Regions from separate parts of the Homo sapiens genome. Here all the other regions are linked to region 1. A link means that fine-mapping ties the variant in region 1 to the expression of a gene that starts in the linked region. Tissue or cell type: whole blood. Region 1 holds a variant in brackets; each other region holds the start of a gene. Each region is shown on its reference strand, or each on the opposite one.

What was found.
Region 2: GATA2 starts here. The variant in region 1 is fine-mapped to the expression of GATA2 in whole blood (TOPMed, PIP above 0.99).
Region 3: it holds the start of CNRIP1, and the variant in region 1 is fine-mapped to the expression of CNRIP1 in whole blood (TOPMed, PIP above 0.99).
Region 4: it holds the start of RHEX, and the variant in region 1 is fine-mapped to the expression of RHEX in whole blood (TOPMed, PIP above 0.99).

What each region holds. Positions count from the first base shown.
Region 1 is chr19:33,261,484-33,266,630 of GRCh38, reverse strand. No RefSeq gene overlaps it. Among named protein-coding and RNA genes, the nearest start is that of SLC7A10, 38 kb to the right of the region's middle. The variant G/A (reference allele first, on the strand shown) is at 2,989.
Region 2 is chr3:128,491,083-128,496,229 of GRCh38, reverse strand. It overlaps GATA2 (GATA binding protein 2), which reads left to right and starts at 3,029. Exons shown (of 6, transcript NM_032638.5): 1 at 3,029-3,331. The region is part of intron 2 of GATA2-AS1 (GATA2 antisense RNA 1); the gene reads right to left. RefSeq lists a silencer at 3,230-3,319 and an enhancer at 5,091-5,147.
Region 3 is chr2:68,317,915-68,323,061 of GRCh38, reverse strand. It overlaps CNRIP1 (cannabinoid receptor interacting protein 1), which reads left to right and starts at 3,113. Exons shown (of 3, transcript NM_015463.3): 1 at 3,113-3,840. The coding sequence starts at 3,662.
Region 4 is chr1:206,051,007-206,056,153 of GRCh38, reverse strand. It overlaps RHEX (regulator of hemoglobinization and erythroid cell expansion), which reads right to left and starts at 2,981. Exons shown (of 6, transcript NM_001007544.4): 1 at 2,889-2,981. It overlaps LOC105372857 (a long non-coding RNA gene), which reads left to right. Exons shown (of 3, transcript XR_922473.3): 3 at 1-2,711. RefSeq lists enhancers at 2,866-2,925, 3,346-3,585, 4,949-5,147.

The sequences.
Region 1 (5,147 bases):
CTGAGTCTGCTAGTTTGAGACCAGCTTGGGCAACATAGTGAGACCCCATCTCTATAAAAAGTTAGCCAGGCATGGTGGTGCATGCCCGTAGTCCCAGCTACACAGGAGGCTGGGGCGGGAGGATCACTGGAGCCCAGGAGTTTGAGGCTGCAGTGAGCTGTGTTCGTGCCACTGCACTCCAGCCTGGGCAACAAAGCAAGACCCTATAATTAATAAATAAATAAATAAATAAATAAATAAATAAATAAATGGAAAAAGAAAACTGGAAATCAGAATAGAAGGACCCAGAAGCTGCCAGGGCCACCTCAGAAAGAATTCTGGAACACTGTTGCCTTGGGAAGATAACATCTGGCTGATGGAAGGTCAGAGGCAGGTTACCAGGGAAAGACTCCTGTTTGAAAAGAAGGTCACCGAGGCATCCCTCGTGTCTTCCCACTGCATTTGGTGCACAGCACATGACTCTGGTTCTCTCTCATTCAGGGCCTGGTTATAGCAGAAAGTCTGGCTCTCACTGAGCAAGGACCCAGATGGGGACACTCAGAGAGGTGGGAAAGAATCTCCCCCACCCCGCCAAGGAGGGATGCAGCTGTGCTGTAAGTGATGGTTAAAGCCATCTTTAAGAGAGGCAGGGCGCCATGGCTCACTCTTCTAATACCAGTGCTTTAAGAGGCTGAGGCAGGAGAATTGCTTAAGGCCAGGACTTTGAGACTAGCCTGGGCAACACAGCCATCTCTACAAAAAATACAGAAATTGGCTGGGCATGGTGGTGCCCACCTGTAGTCTCAGCTACTCAGGAGGCTGAGGTGGGAGGATCACTTGAGCCCGGCAGTTTGCAGCTGCGGTGAGCTATGATCGCACCCCAGCACTCCAGCCTGGGAGACAGAGTGAGACACTGTCTCTAAAAAGAAAGAGGGAAGAGAGAAGATGCCCGTAGCTGCTTTAGGTGACAAACGGCCTTGAAGCCGTGAAGGCCCACTCCCTTCCACAGGGAATGCAGCCCCATCTCCGCAAGCCAGTCTCTGAGGCCACCCCTTCTTGCTTCCTCCGCCAGATACCCTGCCCAGCCCCCTCCCCCAAAATGAAGCCAGGTGGGGACCCTCTGTGCTGCTGGCCTCCAGGCCCTGCCCTGCTGCCCCTGCCTTCAGCCCCTACCACCCACACCACCCTGAAACCCTTCCTCTCCCTGGCCACTGTACCTCTCCCAGACCGGCGGTTTGCCTCCAGCTGGAGCCTCCTGGAGGCTGGGAGAGAACCCCTCGCCTGGGTTAACTTTAGTGGTGATTCTAGAAGCAGGACGCTGCTGAGGAAAAGGCCAAACTGTAGCTTTGTCCGCTCCACCCCAAGCCTTTGCCTGAGCTGGAACTTTCCTCTAACAAGCCCTGTAAGAGGAGCTTCACACCATGCTCCCTGTGTGAACCATGGTACCTGTGAGTATTGGCAATGATATTATGCCAATGTGCTATTATGTGCATTTAGCATAAAAGCCACTTGTAAGTAGTCACGTGGCAAGACCACGGCTGGGGCCCAGAGAATCCTGCTGGGGGCCCATAACATGGGATTGGCCCCCTGGAGCTAAGGCCAGGGCTGCAGTGCAGGAGGCCCACACCCGCAGGGGATCCTGCCCGAGGGGCAGGGCTGGATGAGAGGCAGTGAGCCCAGAGCATAGACAGAAGACAGTGGGCGTGTGTGTGTCTTGGTCACTGCGTGCGTCTCTAGGTAACTTTGGTTTGCACGTTTGTGAGGTTGAGCGTCTGTCAATGTGAGTTTCCGTGCATGGCTGGTGACTGCATTTGTGTGTCTGTGCATGGGCCTGGGTACATCCGTGTCTCTCGGTGTGTTTATGGATCTGTTCATTCAATCACTGCCTGGTGCGGCCAGGCCCTAGACAGACTGGAGGGCTCGGTCCCTGCCCCATCAGGCCCACAGTCTGGCAGGAGGTGAGCAGGAAGTAGGAATTACACCCATAATCCCTAGGCAGGATGGTGACAGGGGGAGCTCACGCCTCGAGGGTGGAAGCCCCGAGACAAGGGACCTGCTGCAGCTTGGCACTCGGGGACCCTGGATGCTTTCATGAAGGACAGGAAAGCCGAGTGCCATAGGAGGCATGGGAGTTGTCATGGGGAGGAGAGTTTTCCAGGCAGAGGGGAGAGCATTTGCAAAAGCCGGGGCACTGAGGAGGGGTCGAGGCAGAACTGCAGGTGCTAGGAAGCCAAGGGGTGTGGGAGGTGAGGGCAGGAAGGACAGGAGCTAGACACGCAAGCCTGGAGGCCACCATGATAATGGTGGCTGCTTCCTAGAACCGTGGGAAGGTGAAGTTCGGAAAGCAGCCCGATCATGTGGTCATTTAATAATACGACCATTCTGGGCCGGGCACGGTGGCTCACGCCTGTAATCCCAGCACTTTGGGAGGCCAAGGCGGGCAGATCACGAGGTCAGGAGATCGAGACCATCCCGGCTAACACAGTGAAACCCCATCTCCACTAAAAATACAAAAAATTAGCCGGGGGTGGTGGCGGGCACCTGTAGTCCCAGCTACTCGGGAGGCTGAGGCAGGAGAATGGCGTGAACCTGGGAGGCGGAGCTTGCAGTGAGCTGACACTGCACCACTGCACTCCAGCCTGGGCGACAGAGCAAGACTCCATCTCAAAAAAATAAAATAAAATAAAATAATAATAATAATATGGCCACTCTGTTGGCTAAGAGCCTGGATGAGGCCAGAGCTGCCATCCCATGAAGAGAGATGGTGGCTGGGGACGTGGGGCGGCAGGGGAAGACGTGGACAGGTGCGGGCATGCAGAGGCAATGGAAGGGTGACAGGCAAGGCCTGGCGACGGCTCAGGTGTCAAGGGCCAGGAGGTGTACATGCTGTGTGTGCACACGTGTGCACGTGAGCCTGTACAAACGCCTGCCAGGAGCTCAGGCCAGGCCCTCTCTCCTCTCCCTCTCCCCTCTCCAATCTCTTGCCCGTGTCCCCCACAGCCTCGCCGC[G/A]GACATGACAGTGACGGTAAGAAGGACTCAGTGTTGCAACTGCATTTCCTCTCGAACCCAGGGCCGCCAGAGATTAGCTGAGAGCCCCGTGTGCACTGGGCGATAACACCCCCACCACTCCCCCCGCTTCCTAATCTCTGATTCATTTCCAACTGATAACAGCATGAGGGCCCATGGGCGACGAAGAAACACCCCAGTGGGTCCTACCAAGGCCACTGTCAAGCCACGTGCAGGGACTCCGGGGAGCAGAGACAGGGAGGGCGAAGACCAGGGGTGATTGCAGAGGCAGAGACAGAGAGAGGAAGAAAGAGAATGAGAAGAGAGAGAGAAAATGAAAATGGGGAGAGAATGAGAGAGGGGGAGAAAGAGAGGGAGGGGAGGGCAGCGGGAATGGTCGACGGGTGCAAAAATATGGTTAGGTAGAATGACTAAGATCCAGGATTGATGCATGCAGGCCTTAATACCCAGGTGATGGGTTGATCTGTGCAGCAAACCACCATGGCACGCGTTGACCTATGTAACAAATCTGCACGTCCTGCACATGTATCCCAGAACTTAAAATAATTTTTTTAAAAAAAAGATTCAGTATTTAATAGCACAACAGGGTGATGACAGTCACCAAGAATTTACTGTACATTTAAAAATAATTAAAAGAGCATGATGAGAATGTTTGTAACACAGAGAAAAGATAAATGCTTGAGGGACGGAGACCCCATTAACCCTGATGGATCATGACACATTGCATGCCTGTATTAAAGTATGTCATGTACCCCGTAGATATATGCACCTGCTATGGACCCATACAAATAAAATAAAAAGAAAGAGGAAAGGAAAGAGAATGAAAATGAGAGACAGACAGAGAGAGAGTGAGGATAAGGGGGAGATGGAGACAGGCGGAGAGAGACAGAGAGACACAAACCCCCCAGGTCAGGGCAGGGTGACGAGGAAGAGAGAGGAAACAAGGACAGTGGTGGAGGGACAGACTGACAAATGTGTGCAGATACAGAGAGGGGCTGGGGGGTCCTGGGGGCTAGAAGGACTTACTAAAGTGATAGAGAAACAGAAAAACAGGCCAGGCACAGTGGCTCATGCCTGTAATCCCAGCACTTTGGGAGGCTGAGGCAGGCAGATTACTTGAGGTCAGGAGTTCAAGACCAGCCTGGTCAACATGGCAAAACCCCATCTCTACTAAAAATACAAAATTAGCCAGGCGTGGTGGCGCACACCTGTAATCCCAGCTACTCGGGAGGCTGAGGCAGGAGAATCGCTTGAGCCCAAGAGGTGGAGGTTGCAGTGAGCCAAGATCGTGCCACTGCACTCCAGCCTGGGCAACAGAGTGAGATTTTGTCTCAAAATAAGAAACAGAAAAACAGAGAGAAGGGACTGAGTGAGAGCAAGAAAGGGAAGAGGTGACCCAAGGTCAGGAGACAGAGGGAGTGAAAAGGAGAGAGCAAGACGGTGAGTGGTGGGGTGCGAGGCTGGATGGGCCCTCCCTGGCCCTGCCCATACTGCCTAGACACCATGGGTTAGGGCAGGACAATGATTTTACTGGCTCGACCCCTGCCAGGTACAGGCCTCAGCTGGGGCAGGGTGGCAGGGACAGCACACACCCCTGACCAGTCCAGAGAGCCCCAACCCTCAGGTGGGGCAGGCAGGGCTGTGGGCTGCACAGAGCTGAGCGGGGCGGATGGAGCCATGCTCCTTGTCCATGGACTCGGCCAGAGCCAAGGAGACAGAGCAACCCATCGGGTCTATGTGGATCCTGACGGGGTCTGGCAGGGCTGGACAGTCAAGGTTCGGGGGTCTGGGCTCAACCCCAGGGCTGTGATGGCGTGGCAGCCATCTGTGCTTTCCCAGAGCAGGCAGGAAGTGCCTGCAGGGAGCTGGAACCGCAGTGCTGGTGCTCAGGGCTGGGACAGGAGGGAGCCGGTTTCCCTCCACTCCCCTCCCCAACCGAGCACTCCCCTGGGTTCACAGTCTGGGTCATGTGGTGATGCTGAGAGTTTAGTGGAAGAGGAAATGGGAGCTCCAGGAACTACAGAGGCCCGGCCACCTCCCTTGCTCCTAAGCCCCTGCACCAGATCCCCCCTAAGTATAGAAGAGGGGTACAGACAGCTGCCCACCAGAGGGGCGCCAGGGCCTGGGAAGGATCTCACAGG
Region 2 (5,147 bases), not on the chromosome of region 1:
TCTCTCTGTCCTCTCTTATCTCTCTCCTGTCTCTGTCCATGTCTCTGTGGTTATCACCTTCTTTGCTTTTATTCCCATCTTTCTGACCCTTTCTGCCACTTTTTAGTTGTTTATTTCTGTCTGTCTCCAAGTGTCCCCAAGCTCCAGGCCTGTCCCCACCAGTGCCTCTTCCTCATTGTTTTTTTAAAATCTGTCTTTGGGCCTCCCATCTCTTTCCCCACTCCTTGTCTCTCTGGATCTTTCTGTCACTGAATCTCCATTTCTCTTCATCCACCCCACCCTGAGGGCCCCACATCTCCAGGCCTCATACCTCCTGCCCTCTCAAGGCTGTGAACCTGGCCACAGACCAGAGACTGGAAGGCTCCAGCCAGCTCTGGCCTGGCCAGCCCAGCTCCGCCCAGTAGGCAGGAGGCAGGTGGGGTGGGGAGGTGCAAGGCCTGGAACCCCCTTTCCAAGGAAACAAGACAGAAGTAGAAAAGGCCCTGTAGGCACCCAGGCCCTGCTCCTGTGCTTCAGACAAGCTCGCCCATGCCCCTCCCCAGTGAGGCCCAGGGCCTTGGGATCGGGTGGTCCCAATGAGGACACCTCATTAGAGCAGTTATTCAGCATGGCGCTGGCGACAGCAGATAAGCCTTATCAGCTCATCTCCCCTCCCACAGACAGACAGAAAGTGCCCGAGCAAATGGTACCCTAGAGCTCCACTGGCGGCCTGCCCTGCTGGTTAAGGAAGGTCTGGATGGTGTGTGATCCTGCAGGATGCACACCCCGCGTGTCACCCAGGACACACTTTTCTACAGTCCACAGAACAGGGCACTGCTGGCCACAGAAACATGCATTTCAAAGATGTAGTCATATACACAGTTGCCCACAACCCAGATACGCAGACACAAACACCCACCGCAACACACATCAATTCATACATGGAGCTGTACGTAGACATGCAGACACACTCGGATACATCTCCTCCTCCCCACCATCAGTTCAAAGATACAATGATATACACTGATACCTATGCTGTTAAAGACAGATGGACATGCACATAGCCAAATGCATGTTCAAATACACAAACACAAACACACGCCCCAACAGCCATCAATTAATAAAGAGAATTATACATGGATATCCAGACACATGCAACACACCACACACACACACCTACACATACACCAGTTCAAGGACACATGCAGATACCCAGGTACAAACTATTAAAGACACACACAGGCTAGGCGCAGTAGCTCACGCCTATAATCCCAGGACTTTGGGAGGCCGAGGTGGGAGGATTGCTTTAGTCCAGGAGTTTGGGACCAGTCTGGGCAACATAGTGAGACTGTGTTTCCACAAAAATAAAAATAAAAATAATTAGCCAGGCACGGTGGCACATGCCTGTGGTCCCAGATACTCAGGAGGCTGAGGTGGGAGGATGGCTTGAGTCTGGGAGGTTGAGGCTGCAGTAAGCGCTGATTGAACCGCTGCACTTCAGTCTGGGTAACAGATCAAGACCCTGTCTCAAGAAACAAAACAAAACAAAACAACAACAACAACAAAAATACACACAGTAACACATGCCTAGATACATGCACATACACACGCAAACACACACTCCAAAACACACCCATTCATAGACATGCCACACACTGCTACAGACACATGGGCAAACACCTGGAAATCCCCACCCCTCATTACATGAGTCTCTGACATGATGACCCCACAGACACAGAGCCAAAGGGACGCACAACCATTTCCACAGACACACTCTCTTGTGCCAAATTCCAGGGTCATGAAATAGCCACACTGTGACCTACTGCCCAATACACAAACTCTCAGGAACCCACAAGAAGAAATGAACATACTCATACACCCAGTTTTGCAGACACTCCTGTGTGCTCCTAAGTGCACACAGACACACCTGGGCACACAGGACATAGACTCTGAGCCACATGCATAGAACACACACACAATGCAATAGTCACCACCAGATTTGGAGAAAGACCTATGGACAGCAGGGGTCACAAAGACCAGGGGACAGAAACACTCCTCTGGGGCACACCTGGGCACGGGAGCACAGATTTCCCAGTCCTTCCAAGCCCAAGCACTTTCCCTCTGGGCTCAAGGTCCCCAGGCCACTTTCACTCTCCCTGATCTGCTGGAATGGGAATCAGGGGTGGGGGTGGGGGGACGCTGACTGGTTGAATCCCTTAGTAAGAACTTTGGCAGCACAAGGACTGGACTGTCTTTGCCCACAAACCCAGGGGCCTTCTGGGGATGAGGACTCCCACACTCACTTTCTCCCCCCCTCCTGACTCCCACTTCTGTGAACAAGCCCTCTGCACACTTCCTTGCTTCCCCCATTGTGAGAGTCTGCCCCAAGGAGATGGGCCAGGGGGACACCAGACAGTGGACTTCTAAAGTGCTCAGGGGGTCCCCCAGCGTTAGGAACTGGAGGGGGGGTGGGACAGGGAGAGGGGCTGCGCCTGCACTTAGCTAAACAAGCCTGGCAGTGAGGGCGTCCTGAGTGTGAGCCCGAGTGCCGAGTTGCATCTGATTGTATGGCCATGTGTGTCGGTGTGACCCAGGCCGTCTGTCTGAGGATGTCCTCGCGGCCACAGCTGTGTGCACATGTGCAGGGATGTGTGCGTGTCCGTGTGAGCACTCCTGGAAGTGGGTTGAAGACAGAGGAGCGGGCGTCTGTGTACCATTATCAGTGAGTGCGTGTGCTCACAGCTCCTGAGGGTCCCCGGGGAGAGTCTCAGTAAAGACGTGTCCCAAGCTTTCTGAGCAAGCATCCCTGAGGTCAGGGGCGCGCGTGTGCGCTCCGGAGAGGGTGGGAGCGGCCTGGAGTGTGGATGCACAGGGTGTGCGCGCCCTGAGTGCCTAGCGGCCCTTGGCCGGCCAGGCGGCTGGACCTGGTAGGCCGGGTGCAGAGCCCCGGGTACCCTCCTGCCCCCTGCGGCGCTCCCGCCCCCGTCGCCACCCCCTGCCCCCCCGCAAAGTGATGTCGAAATAAAAAGCCGCGTTGCGGCCGGTGGGGGAGAGAGAGGCAGCGTGAGCGCCAGGAAGGTAGCGAGGCCAGCGTCGCCCCGGGACTCGCTGCTCAAGTCTGTCTATTGCCTGCCGCCACATCCATCCTAGCAGGGCCCCGTCGCCCACCAGGCGGACAAAAGCGGTCCGCTGAACACCATGCGGCCGCTCGGCGTGCCGCCCAGGCTCTGCTGGTGAGCGCCGCCACCCCGCGCCCAGGTCCCGCGAGCCCGCCTGCCGCGCACCTCGCCCTGCTCCCAGCTCTACTCCAGGCCCCGTCCGCCCGGGGGCGCCGCCCACCGCGCCTCGCTCGGTGAGTTTCTTCCACTTCCACCTTCCCTGGGCCCGGCCCTTCCCGCCCCCGGCCCGGCCCGCCTGGCACCCGAATCGCTTGGTCCGTTTGCCCTGTGGCCCCTACCTTTGGGGCTCGCCTTGGCCCTGCCAGAGACCGGAAACCCTGGTTATAGGGACTTTAACCAGAGGGAGTATTTGGTTACCTGGGCACAGCAGGCCCGCCTCGGGCCTCTTGTCTTCCCATTTCTCGGAGCCACAGGCCACGAGACCCTGGCATTCCCAGAGCCTCGCAAAGCACCCCCGCCTCCCGGCCCCCGAACTGGGGCCTTTGTCTCGGCCGCCCCCAATCCCCAGGCCACCGCGGCGGATGCGTCCGAGCCGGGCCGCCGAGCGGCGGCTGCACCTGCCGGCTGGTCCCGTGCGCCGGCTTTTCGCGGCTTAACCCAGCTCGCTCCTGCTTGCGCCCCCGCGCGCTGCGCCCCGCAGCCCTTTATCCTGTGTGACTGGGGTGCGTGTGGGGGAGAGCGCCGGGTCTGGAAGTCTCCCCCCGCCCCAAGCCGGAGTCGGAATCCGTTTAGTGGGATTTCAATAAGAATGGGGCCGCCGCGGGCTTGAAGATCTGCCGCCGGTAGGCGTAGACGGCGTTCTGGATCTGTCTGAAAACGGGGCATTTAAAATTATTCTGTGGCGGCCAGGCTTGAACTCCGCGTTGCTCCAACCACGAGGGGAAAGGCCCCGCGTTCAGGGACCCCGTGTGTGGCGAACGCTCCTTTACCGGAAAACAAGGAAGGAAATTCGTTGTTTTGGAAAAAGCCTCCTCTCCCGAGGTCGGGAACATCTGGTGGTGAGCTCCAGGTCTACGCAGGCACCCCGTGCTAGGATTCGTTTATGAGCAGGCAGGATTCGAGAACCAGGTAGGGCCCGTGCGGCAGCCGAGGCGTCTGGGGAGCGTTTCCCAGCCGGGCTGACAAATTGCAGACAAATTGTGCCTAACGAAACGGATTTACCAGTTGTCAGGCCGCCGGCCCCGGCCGCTCCAAATAAACCGTGGCTGTTCGTGGAGGAGGGAGAAGCACGGCCCGATTGTCTCCGGGTCTCAGCAGGGTTCCGCGGGGAGCCTGCCAGGCTTGAAGGTAGGGGTCAGAAGCGATATAGAATCTCGGAGGCGCCTGGGTCCAGGGTGCCGAGACACCTAGGACGTGGGGGCCACAGACTCTACGATTCCCAAAGACACAGAACAGTAATGAGGTGGGAGAGCCTGCACTGATGCCGAGGGAGGGAGCCTTCTGCTTTAAGGGGCTGGAATTGAACCTCAAGGAGCAGGAGGGGCCGTTATAGCAGTAGTCCCCCCCTTGGGAACCCCCCCGGAGGGATGGCTGCTGGCCTGAGATCTAATGCCCCGGCTTTAAGGGAACTTCTGAACCCATCTGCTAAGGCACCCCACTTCCTCCCCGTACCCCTCAAGGTTTATTGCCAGTGTGGGGCTGGGAGGCCGCTGGGTTGCGAATTAAATTTCTCTATGGAAGGTAGTCCCTTAGCAAATGGGTTTCCTTGACACCCCACCCCCAGCCCCACACCGCGGGCCAATTAGCTGCCCATAAGGAAAAGGCGAGAAGAATTAGGTTACAAAGGGAGGGCAAACTTATGGTCCCAAAGGGGCCGCCTCGGATGAGCTAACTTTAAACAAAGGGCTCAGAGGGGGGGGGGGGCTGGACGGCCGGGGAGACCTGGGCATCTCTGTGTCCCCACCTGGCACCCGCGGCTTAGTAGAGGCCTGAGAAGCACTCTAGAACCGGGCACCAGATCTGCTACCTCCCCAGCTCCCAGGCAGAAGC
Region 3 (5,147 bases), not on the chromosome of region 1:
GGGTACTACTAATCCCATTCACGTGGGCAGAAGAGCCCTTATGACCTAATCACCTCCAAAAGAACCCACTTCTTAATACTATTGCTTTGTGGATTCGGTTTCAACATAGCCATTTTGGGGGAACACAAGCAGCTGGGAGGCTGAGGCAGGAGAATCGTTTGAACCATAGCATGTGATTCCTCTGAATGACAACTAAGTCCATCGTTCACTTGGGCTCAATTTCACAGTTTTCAAAAGAATGATAATAAGCATTGTCCATTAGACAGACAATGTTTAAGATCACCAATCTGAGGTAATAATTAAAGAATCTACAATAAGACTGAAAGCACTAGATACCTTAAAAATATATAGCAAGAAATGAATTAATGCAGGAAAAAAAAGCCAAATACCGCATGTTCTCATTTTTAGTGGGTGCTAACCATTGGGTACCCATGGACATAAAACAGTTTTTCAACCCTTACTTGTCTCCCTCCCTCCCTGGCTAGTAGTCTTCATTCCATTGGTAACAATAGACACTGAGGACTTGGATGATGGGATCATTTCTACTCCAAACCTCAGCATCATGCAATACGCTCCAGTAACAAACCTGAATCTAAACTAAAAGTTGCTACATATTCAGCAAGTATATTTTTAAATAAAAATAGTTACAATGTATTGAGTGTCTCTATGGGCCTGATATTCTTGCATAGTTTACACAATTTCATTTGGTTCTATATGCATCATCTATGTCACCATCATCATTTTACAAATGAAGAAACTGGGGCTCCAAGAGACTAAAGCAGCTTTGCTCAAGGTCACTCAGTTTGTAATCCACAGATCTGGCAACACAAACACAGATCCATCAGACTCCATATTCATATTCTTTGCACATATGTATCAGTGATGATAAATTTTCCAATTACTTTTACATTTATTAATTTCATTTTAAGACATTACATTGTATGGTCCTGAAAATGCTATTCCTAATGGATATTGCCCAGCATTAGTAACACCTCGTATTTGAAAAGTAATTTATTTTTTTCAAACAATTTCCATTTCCTCATTCAATTCTCACAATGTTGGGAAGGAGGTATTTTAATCCTCATTTTACAAAGATGAAACATAAAGATGTTAAGTTATTTGCATAACGAAACTAAAAAGTGGCAGAGTTAGGTTTTTTTTATTTTATTTATTTATGAGATGGCAGTCTTACTATTTTGTCCATACTGGCCTCAAACTCGTCGGCTTAAGTGATCTTCCCACCTTAGCCTCCCAAGTAGTGGGGACTGCAAGAGTGCACTACCTAGCCAGGCTAGAACCAGAGTTTTTGTTTTTGTTTTTGTGTGGGTTTTTTTTTTTTTTTTCAGATGGAGTCTCACTTTGTTGCCCAGACTGGAGTGCAGTGGCATGATCTCGGCTCACTATAAGCTCTGCCTCCCCAGCTCAAGCGATTCTCATGCCTCAGCCTCCCAAGTAGCTGGGACTACAGGCATGCGCCACCACGCCTGGCTAATTTTTTGTATTTTTAGTAGAGACAGGTTTTGCCATTTTGGCGAGGCTGGTCTTGAACTCCTGGCCTCAAATGATCTGCCCTCCTTGGTCTCCCAAAGTGCTGGGATTCCAGGCATGAGCCACCATGCCGGCCTTAGAACCAGGTTTTAAAATGGAGTCATCATCCTCCAGGTCCAATGCTCTTTTTGATACACAGGTGGAAGTTGGCTTGAGATTGTGGGGTTGCTAAACAAAAGGTTGAGGAAAAAAGGCAAAATTTCCAAAAAGGCTTTTAAATGACCCCAAAAAGATACTCACCCTCTTTCCACTACTCATAAACCATAATAACCAACATTAAGTTTACTGTGTAACTCTCTCATTCTTTTAAAAGAGCTAATACAAACATACACATTTATATTCTTTTTAAATTTTCATTTTTCTAAAACACTAGAGATGCTACTTGCAATTAGATTTCTTTTCATCATTCCAGGTAAATCGCAAGGATCTAATTAATTTTAAAGATGTGAAAGAATTTACATATGGACATGATTAAGACCACAACCGTAAGTCAATTCAACAACGATTTCTGGAGCACCTACTATGTGTCAGGCACTATTTTGGCATGCTGGGGAAACAGCAACAAACAAAACAGACAAAATGCTCGCCCTCAGGCTTTGTTTCCCAGCCATCCCACTTTTATCATTAACAGTTTTTGCCTGTGTGTTTGCCAATGCAACCTATATTTCATTATTTTGATAGTTGTGTAACGTTCTATAGTGTGGGTATATAAGAATTTATTCAGCCATTTATTTATTGGTTAACATTTCATTTAGGTTTTATTTTTATTTTTGCAACCAATGTTGCAATAAACACCCATATTACATATATATTATATGTATAGCTTATTATTTCTTAAAAAAGAGCAGTCTAACTTGGGTAAACAAAAACTGCCAAGGAAACGCATCCCTACCCATTTGTTCTCACTAGCCCACTTCATTTCCCAGGTGTGCTCCCTGGCTCTGGTACTATCCATCTGGGTGGTGCTGAAGCAGGTGCTCTCTCTGCTCCGGGAAGCCATTCCCAGTATAGTCCTCACCCCCTGAGTCTCCCCTCGCTTCCAAAAGTCAGCTGTCTACCGACCTCTGCCACGAAAACTGTCTAATCACGCTTAATATGCAAATCTAAACTCTGCGGTGTCGCATATGGCCCCCTGCCAATAATCCTTTGACCCATCCCACCTCTTGGCCATTTTGTCACCAGAATGCCTTAGGCTCATGTCAGTTGCCTTTTACAGGGTTAATAGCTCACCCTTCAAAATCTGTGTAAATATATGTGATTCATTACATATATTTATGTATGTGTCATTTTTGGGACGAGCATACGTATAATGGAAATGTACACCCACAAGAAGATGTAGCTCCTTGAATATGGTTATTTTCTTCCTCTTGCATCCATTCCTCATCCAGCGTGGCTCCATCACGTGGAATTGCGCCTTTCCTCGGCCATTTCCCCTAAGCTTTGGAAAGACTCATATTTCCTGAAATTTAAATCACCGGCTAGCGGTTTCCTGTCCCCCCTTCCCGCCTCCCTTTACCCCCCCTCAGCCTCCTCCCGCCTGGCTGGCGCCGGATCCGCGAGCAGCAGTGTCCACCTCACGTAGCTGGCCGAGGCGGTATCCAGATTCCGGGGGTCTCGCTCCTTGGCATAGTGGTCGCTTAACTCCAGCGCCTTCCCAGTGCCTCCCAAACCTCTCCTCCTCCTGCCCGGGGCTGTTCTAGGAGGAGCCTAAATGTCCGCTTCCCCAGCTGAAGGGGATTGTGGTGCGTAAACAGGATTAACTCCCTCGCCCCCAGCTGCGCGGATCTGCGCGGCGGCCTGCGGGCCAGAGCGAGCCTTCGGGTGCGTGGAGGGCGCAGCACTGGAGCGGGGGATGGGGAAGCGCGCGGCCTTGGAGCCGTCTCTTGGGCCCGCTTCCTCGCCGAGTGGGGAGGGGGGCCACAGCCTAAGGAGCTGCTCCTCAAAAGCCCGGGCGGACGGCGGCGACGGCGCGGGTTCCTAGCGGCAGCCTCAGCTCCACCACCTCCCTCACCCTCCCCGCGCTTCCTCTCCGCCCCTCGCGCTCCAGCCACTCGGCCGCAGCCGGCGCTGTCCTCCGCCCCCCGGAGCCGCCGCGCCAGACCCTCGCCCAGACATGGGGGACCTGCCGGGCCTCGTGCGCCTCTCCATCGCGCTGCGCATCCAGCCTAATGACGGCCCGGTCTTTTACAAGGTGGACGGGCAGCGCTTCGGCCAGAACCGCACCATCAAGCTGCTCACCGGCTCCTCCTACAAGGTTGAGGTGAAGATTAAACCCAGCACGCTGCAGGTCGAGTGAGTGCGGGGCGCCTGGTGGCAGCAGGGTCCCCCATGGGGTACAGGCAGAGGACTGAGGCCCCCAGGACAGCCCGAGCCTCTCAAGGGCCTCTGGCCTCGCGCCGCTCCCAGCGGGCCCGGGGGTTGGAGGAAGAGGTCACTCCCTGTCCGCCTTCGTCCCCTTCCTTCCCTTTGGCTTGTATTCCTCCATTCTCGCTTCCCTCCACCCATCGCAGTGACCTCAGTGGGTTCTTTAAAATCAGTGACAAGAAGCCAGGGTTTTTGCTTGTCTGTTTCTTATAAATTTCTCCTGCCTTCTGTCCAGCCTTGGGCGCGGAACCGCAGGCGGTCGGGGTGGAGCAGATGGGAGAGGTCCGCAGGGTTCAGCCACCGCAATCCCAGCCCTCCTGCGCGCGGTCCAGGCGGCCCACAGGGTCTGCCCGCAAGGCTGAAGGAGGGAGAAAGGAGGAATGAGGTGGAAAGGCAGGGGAGGGGTGATTACTGGGGCTCCCTGAGGGATGCTCCCCACTCCCTTCGCCATTCAGTGGCTGGGACCCTGGGGTGGAGCAGCAGACACTAGTAAGAGAGCGGCCGCCCCTTCTCTGGCCTAGTTTCACGGTTTTCCATGCCGTATGCTGTTCTTTTTCTCCTGAGTTTTCTGTTCAGGCTGGTGATGGTGCCTGGGATTAGCAACATCCCCACAGCAAGAGGATGTTTTTTGGTTTATCCATGGCAGGGACGATTTCTTGCCAGCGACCGCTGGATAATGCACCCAGTAGACCTCTGGCGGGAAAGTGTGTGGGAGCATGCAGTAGCCTACCCGGAAGAACTGCGGGTGGAGCCCCTTTACCTCTCGTTTCTACCTACCAAAGTCTAGTCTGCAGAGAGAAAATAAACCAGCATTTATTGTATCTACTACATATGGTGGGCATTATTGCGGGGGTGGAAGGACTTTGAATTCATCAGATACTACTTATAGCTTACGTTTTAATTCAGTAAACTTGTATTAGCCTTCCAAGGTGCAAGGACCTAGAACCAAATCTGGATGGTTTCTGGTACTCCTGATTCATCTATTTGTCAGCATCCCCCACAGCTCCATGCACCCTTTATTCTCACATTTCCCAGTGTTCTGTGCACCTGGATATAATCCAGGCTTTTCCTTTCCCTTCTTTCCTGCCAACCTTATCCCCGGAGTTATCTGTTAATATATTTCTTTTTTTTTTTTTTAGAGTATTCCTCTAGTGTTCAAACTAATCTAAAAGTTAATTTGTTAGGAATAAAACTATTTTTTCTGGTTACATTTTAATGCTATCAAGGATTTCTCA
Region 4 (5,147 bases), not on the chromosome of region 1:
ATGTTTAACTGGGCTCTCTGACACCGGGAGGAAGGTGGCGGGGTTTAGGTGTTGCAAACTTCAATGGTTATGCGGGGATGTTCACAGAGCAAGCTTTGGTATCTAGCTAGTCTAGCATTCATTAGCTAATGGTGTCCTTTGGTATTTATTAAAATCACCACAGCATAGGGGGACTTTATGTTTAGGTTTTGTCTAAGAGTTAGCTTATCTGCTTCTTGTGCTAACAGGGCTATTGCTACCAGGGACTTTGGACATGGGGGCCAGCGTTTGGAAACCTCATCTAGTTGTTTTGAGAGATAGGCCACTGGCCTTGGCCAGGGCCCTACAGTCTGGGTTAAAACTCCAACTGCCACTTTTTCTCTTTCTGACACATAGAGTGTAAAAGGTTTTGTCAGGTCAGGTAGCCCCAGGGCTGGGGCCGACATGGGTTTTTTCTTTTTTTCAACTCATGAAAAGCTCATTGCTGTTGGGTGTAATAGATGCAGTTTATCTAATCTACATTTTTATTGACTGTCATCTACCAAAATATTGACTTAAATCCTGTAGCTATTTGATTTCGGACTTTAAATTGATCTGGTGTTCCTTGCGGGGCTTCGATTGCATCTAAATAGATGTGAGAGTTGAAAGACCCATAAGGGGCTTCTCTCGCTTTACGATGTCTTATTATTTTTTTTTTCCTTCCTCTGGTTGATGAAATGCCAGGGTGAAAGGGATAGCCAAATAGGCTAAAGCACAAGTGCCACTCTAGTTATTCGGCAGAGTGCCCAATAAAGGTCCACGACAATACCATCACACATCCGCTCGGGGATGAACAAGGGCTGACTGACTGATAAGCTCTTGAAAATTCTTAAGCTCACTGCATCCCTTCAGGTCTCCAAGGAATGCTAAGTCTCCTCCCTGCCATGAGAGACATGAAGTGAACTTAGTGTTGGGAGACGGAAGCTGGACGGCCCTCAGGGGCTGACCCGCAGGGACTTTGGGATATAGCAGAGAGAGCTTGGCATGACTTATTACTCCAAGCTGTAGAAACCTGGAAAATAGCTACCCTGCAGCCCATGCCTGGTCAACTGGAGGACCACCTTAGTGGAAGGGGGACAATCAGGGCCTCTGGCCTGCCATGTGCACAAGCATAACAATTGCATTTGTTTAAAGTGCAGATGGAATATTTGATCCATTTCAGCCAGGCACTTGCATCTTGGCGTGCTGTCTTAATTGCCAAAGTTTGTTTTAAGTCTTTAACTTTTATGATCCTCTAGTAAAATGAATGTTTCCTTTAGCACCAATTTTTATTAGTTTTTAGACCAAAGAAAGCTAAACACCATTTTATATTTAATAATGTTTCTTGTATGATTTTTATACCAGATAAGCTAAATTTTACCTTTATATTAGTGTGTTATTAATTTTAAACTGAATTTTAATAAAACCTTGTAGACATATTTATCCAATTTTTCATGTTTGACCATAAGGTAAGATTTTATAGACTCTTTTTAACCTTTTATAATTTTTGTTAAAGAGCAGGTTGATGCTTTAAGAAAAACCTGTGGCATTTTTTACTTTAATGTCCAGTTCACAGAAAAACTGGATGATACCTTTTTAACTTTAGCTAATATGTTTACACACAGAATTTTCTTTATAATTAACGTTTTAAAACTTGCTTAAACTTTTAAAACAATAATTGTTTTTAACCTTTTAATGTAGGTAAAAATCCACATTCTTATGCCCCTTTATAATCTTTTTACCAAAGGTATGTTTTACTTTTCTTATACACCTTGCACATAAACTGTTTTTTTAATAGTACTCAGGAGGCCTTATTACTTTTAAATTATACAACATTTTTTGCATAAATTTTTTTATAACATTTTTTCTTTCACGACTTTTGCCGACAATTCTTCAATGTGTCTCAACTTTCTGACTTATTACAAACATTTTTTTTCTTTAAACACCAGTTAGTTTATTTCAGGACAAGAATTTACCATATAACACTCTTTTTACATAAATTCTGTCTCCCCCCACTTTTTTTTTTTTTTGAAGATAACCATTCCTTTTTTTTTTTTTTAAAGCAAACTTTCTTTATGCCTTTGGACTAGACTGTCTAAGGCCACAAGATTAGAAGTTACCATAATACATGTTACACTGTTAACTTTAAGCAAACTTCACTTTTGTTGAAAACCTTGTAAGTTTGGGATTTCAATTATCCTTTGCTATTAAGACCTTGTTTAGTCTAAATTAACTTAGAATTGGTATAGATGGCCTTTTTTTCTCTCTACTGGTCTTTCCTTGCCTCTGCCAGCCGCTTATGCTGCTGTTCTCTTAACTACGTTGGCGGGGCAAGGGGGTATAAAAGCAGCTGTAACTTTCTATGTATGGAAACTGGTCTGGGTGCCTTGGCTTACGGGTTACCTTGTGTCATACCTTTGAAACAAGGGACCTGTCCAGGCTTCCTTCTGATGGCCAACCCACCTCTAATGCTGGCCAGTCTATTTCACACAAAGTTCTAAGTTTTCCTGGTGTCACAGTAACACTGTAATCTCCCTTAAATTCTTTCTTGAATTTTTTTTTAACATAGTTCCTAGTGGGGTGGGCTTATTTGTACCTGACCCATGCTTCTTCGAGACAAAACACCACACCCACACCACACACATGCCACAAACAAAAAAACAGGTAAAAAGGGCATACACACTCTTGCAGTTTACACCAAACCAAAATCAAAACCAAAATCAGAGTATCCAGAAATCCAAGCCAGGTCAAAACCAAAACCAAAACCAAAGTATCACACAATCTAAGTCAAGTCAAAACCAGAACAGAAGTGCCAATGCAGGCATGTCGTGGGTGATCAGGCCACACTTCCACCTAGATGGAGTGGGGCAAGTTCCAAAGACTAGTCTTACCAAGTTTCAGATGTCCGGACTCCAAGTGCCAGTTCCTTCCCGGTGTTCAGCCACTGTGTTAATCCTCCACAGGGAACTGCTACACGCTGCTCTGGTGAGGCATTCCACCGGGGCAATTTCCTACCCGGGAGTGCTCTTTGGATCGCGTCACTCGGGCTGGCCGGAGTCCGCCTCAGGGATGCTCCACAGGGGAGGCCTAAGCCGCCTAAGGGGCTGCCTCGGCTGTCCATCAGTTACCTCGTTTCCTGGTCAGGGAACCAAGAAATGTAGCAGGACGAGCCGCAGACAAAACCCCTCAGACACCAAATTGTAGAAGGAAGGGCTTTATTCAGCTGGGAGCATCAGCAGGCTACTGCCTTAAAATCCGAGCTCCCCGAATGCACAATTTCCGTCCCTTTTAAGGGCTCACAATACTAAAGATTTCACATGAAAGGGTCATGATTGATTTGAGCAAGCAGGCGGTATGTGACAGGGGCTGCATGCACCGGTGGTCAGAGAGAAACAGAACAGGGCAGGGAGTTTCACAATGTTCTTCTATACAATGTCTGGAATCTATGAATAACATCAGTTTCTAAGTTATGAGTTGATTTTTAACTACTGGGTTTAGGCCAGGCAGGCCCAGGCCTGGTTTCGGGCCTGGCGCCGGACTGCCTGTCTTTGGTTTTACTTCCTTGTTGTTTTTCCTTAAAACAGGTACTGAGTATAAAACAATATAAAACAATATGAGAGGGTCTCTCTCTTCCCTCACAGTGACCTGGGTCTCAGACACTTCCTAACTGTGATCTTAGGACAAACACTTAGCTTTTCTGAGCCTCATCTGTGAAACAGACAGAATATGAATGCCTACCTCATGGAGTTGTTTAAGAACTCAGTGATCAGACTATTATTCAACAGTAATAACGAGCCAGGCCCAGTGGCTCACGCCTATAATCTCAGCACTTTGGGAAGTCAAGGCAGGAGGACCGCCTGAGCTCAAGAGTTTGAGACCAGCCTGGGCAATATAGCTAGACCTTGTCTCTACTTTAAAAAAAAAAAATCCGAAAATTAGCTGGGTGTGCTACTGCATGCCTGTAGTCCCAGCTCCTTGAGAGGCTGAGATAGGAGAATCACTTAAGCTAGGGAAGTCGAGGCTGCAGTGAGCCATGATCACACCATTGTACTCTAGCCTGGGTGACAGAGCAAGACCCTGTCACAAAAACAAACAAAGAAACAGAAGACAGGAATAACCACCATTTGTATTGTTCTAGTTTTCAGTTGGTCTTACCTGAGCAGAGTAATTGGGTGAGATTGTTCATGGAGGCATTGCTGGCTCTCTAGTCCTGGAACCTACAGTTGGTCCAATTCATTATGCCAAAGGGTCCGTCTAGGAGGTTCTTGTTCCAAGTATTGAGATTCCCGAGAGAAGTAGGTCCCCTTAGATAGAAGCAGAGTTTCTCAGAGGTATTTAGCAGCAGCTGGTGGACACAGGACTCAGGGAGCTGGCCCCCCTCTTCCCTTCCATGTCTTTCATTCCTGCATGGGAACCTGTCAGATGGGGAGATTGTTAAAATCTCACCACTGGAGGGGAGGGCCTCAAAGGCCATGGAGACAGCACCTCTCTCTTAGTGAAGGCATCTTCAGATAGAATTCAGCACAAATTCAAAGGTGGCTCCCCAGACCCTATCTGTCACATCGCCCTCTCATCTATTAGTATCTGAAGTCACCTTGATCATTTATTTGTTTACTTGATTATTGTCAGCCTCTCATCACATGAATGTGAGCTTCATAAGAACAGAGACCTTATCTGTTTTGGCCAACATTTCACCCCCAGTGTCTAGAAAGTGCCTCATGCAATGAATAGGTCCAATACATATTTCTTCAATAAATGAATGAATGAATGAATGCCAAAGACTCCTTCATAAAAGCCAGGGTCAACTGACCTCTGCCAGAATTTTGGAGAGCCTACACCACAGACTTTTGAACCTCTTAGCTGATGACAAATCTTTAGCCTTCGAAGCGGAAATTGATTTGAAAGAGCCCAAAGTACTCCGGTAAAGTAGGTGATGTTGAACTGGGTAATGTCAATTTCAGAAAAAGAGGACACGTGCCTGTGAAACACCAAGAGCAGTGTCCTGGGGTTGGGGAGGACACCTGCCTGGGTGTGGGTGGCCAAGGGGAAGAAGGAAGAGAAAGAGCAGGGGAAGATGCTGTCCCACAGCCACCACCACAGGTGTTCACCGGCCTCAGGCGCCAGCCCTGCTCAGGGTGAGAGGCGAAGAG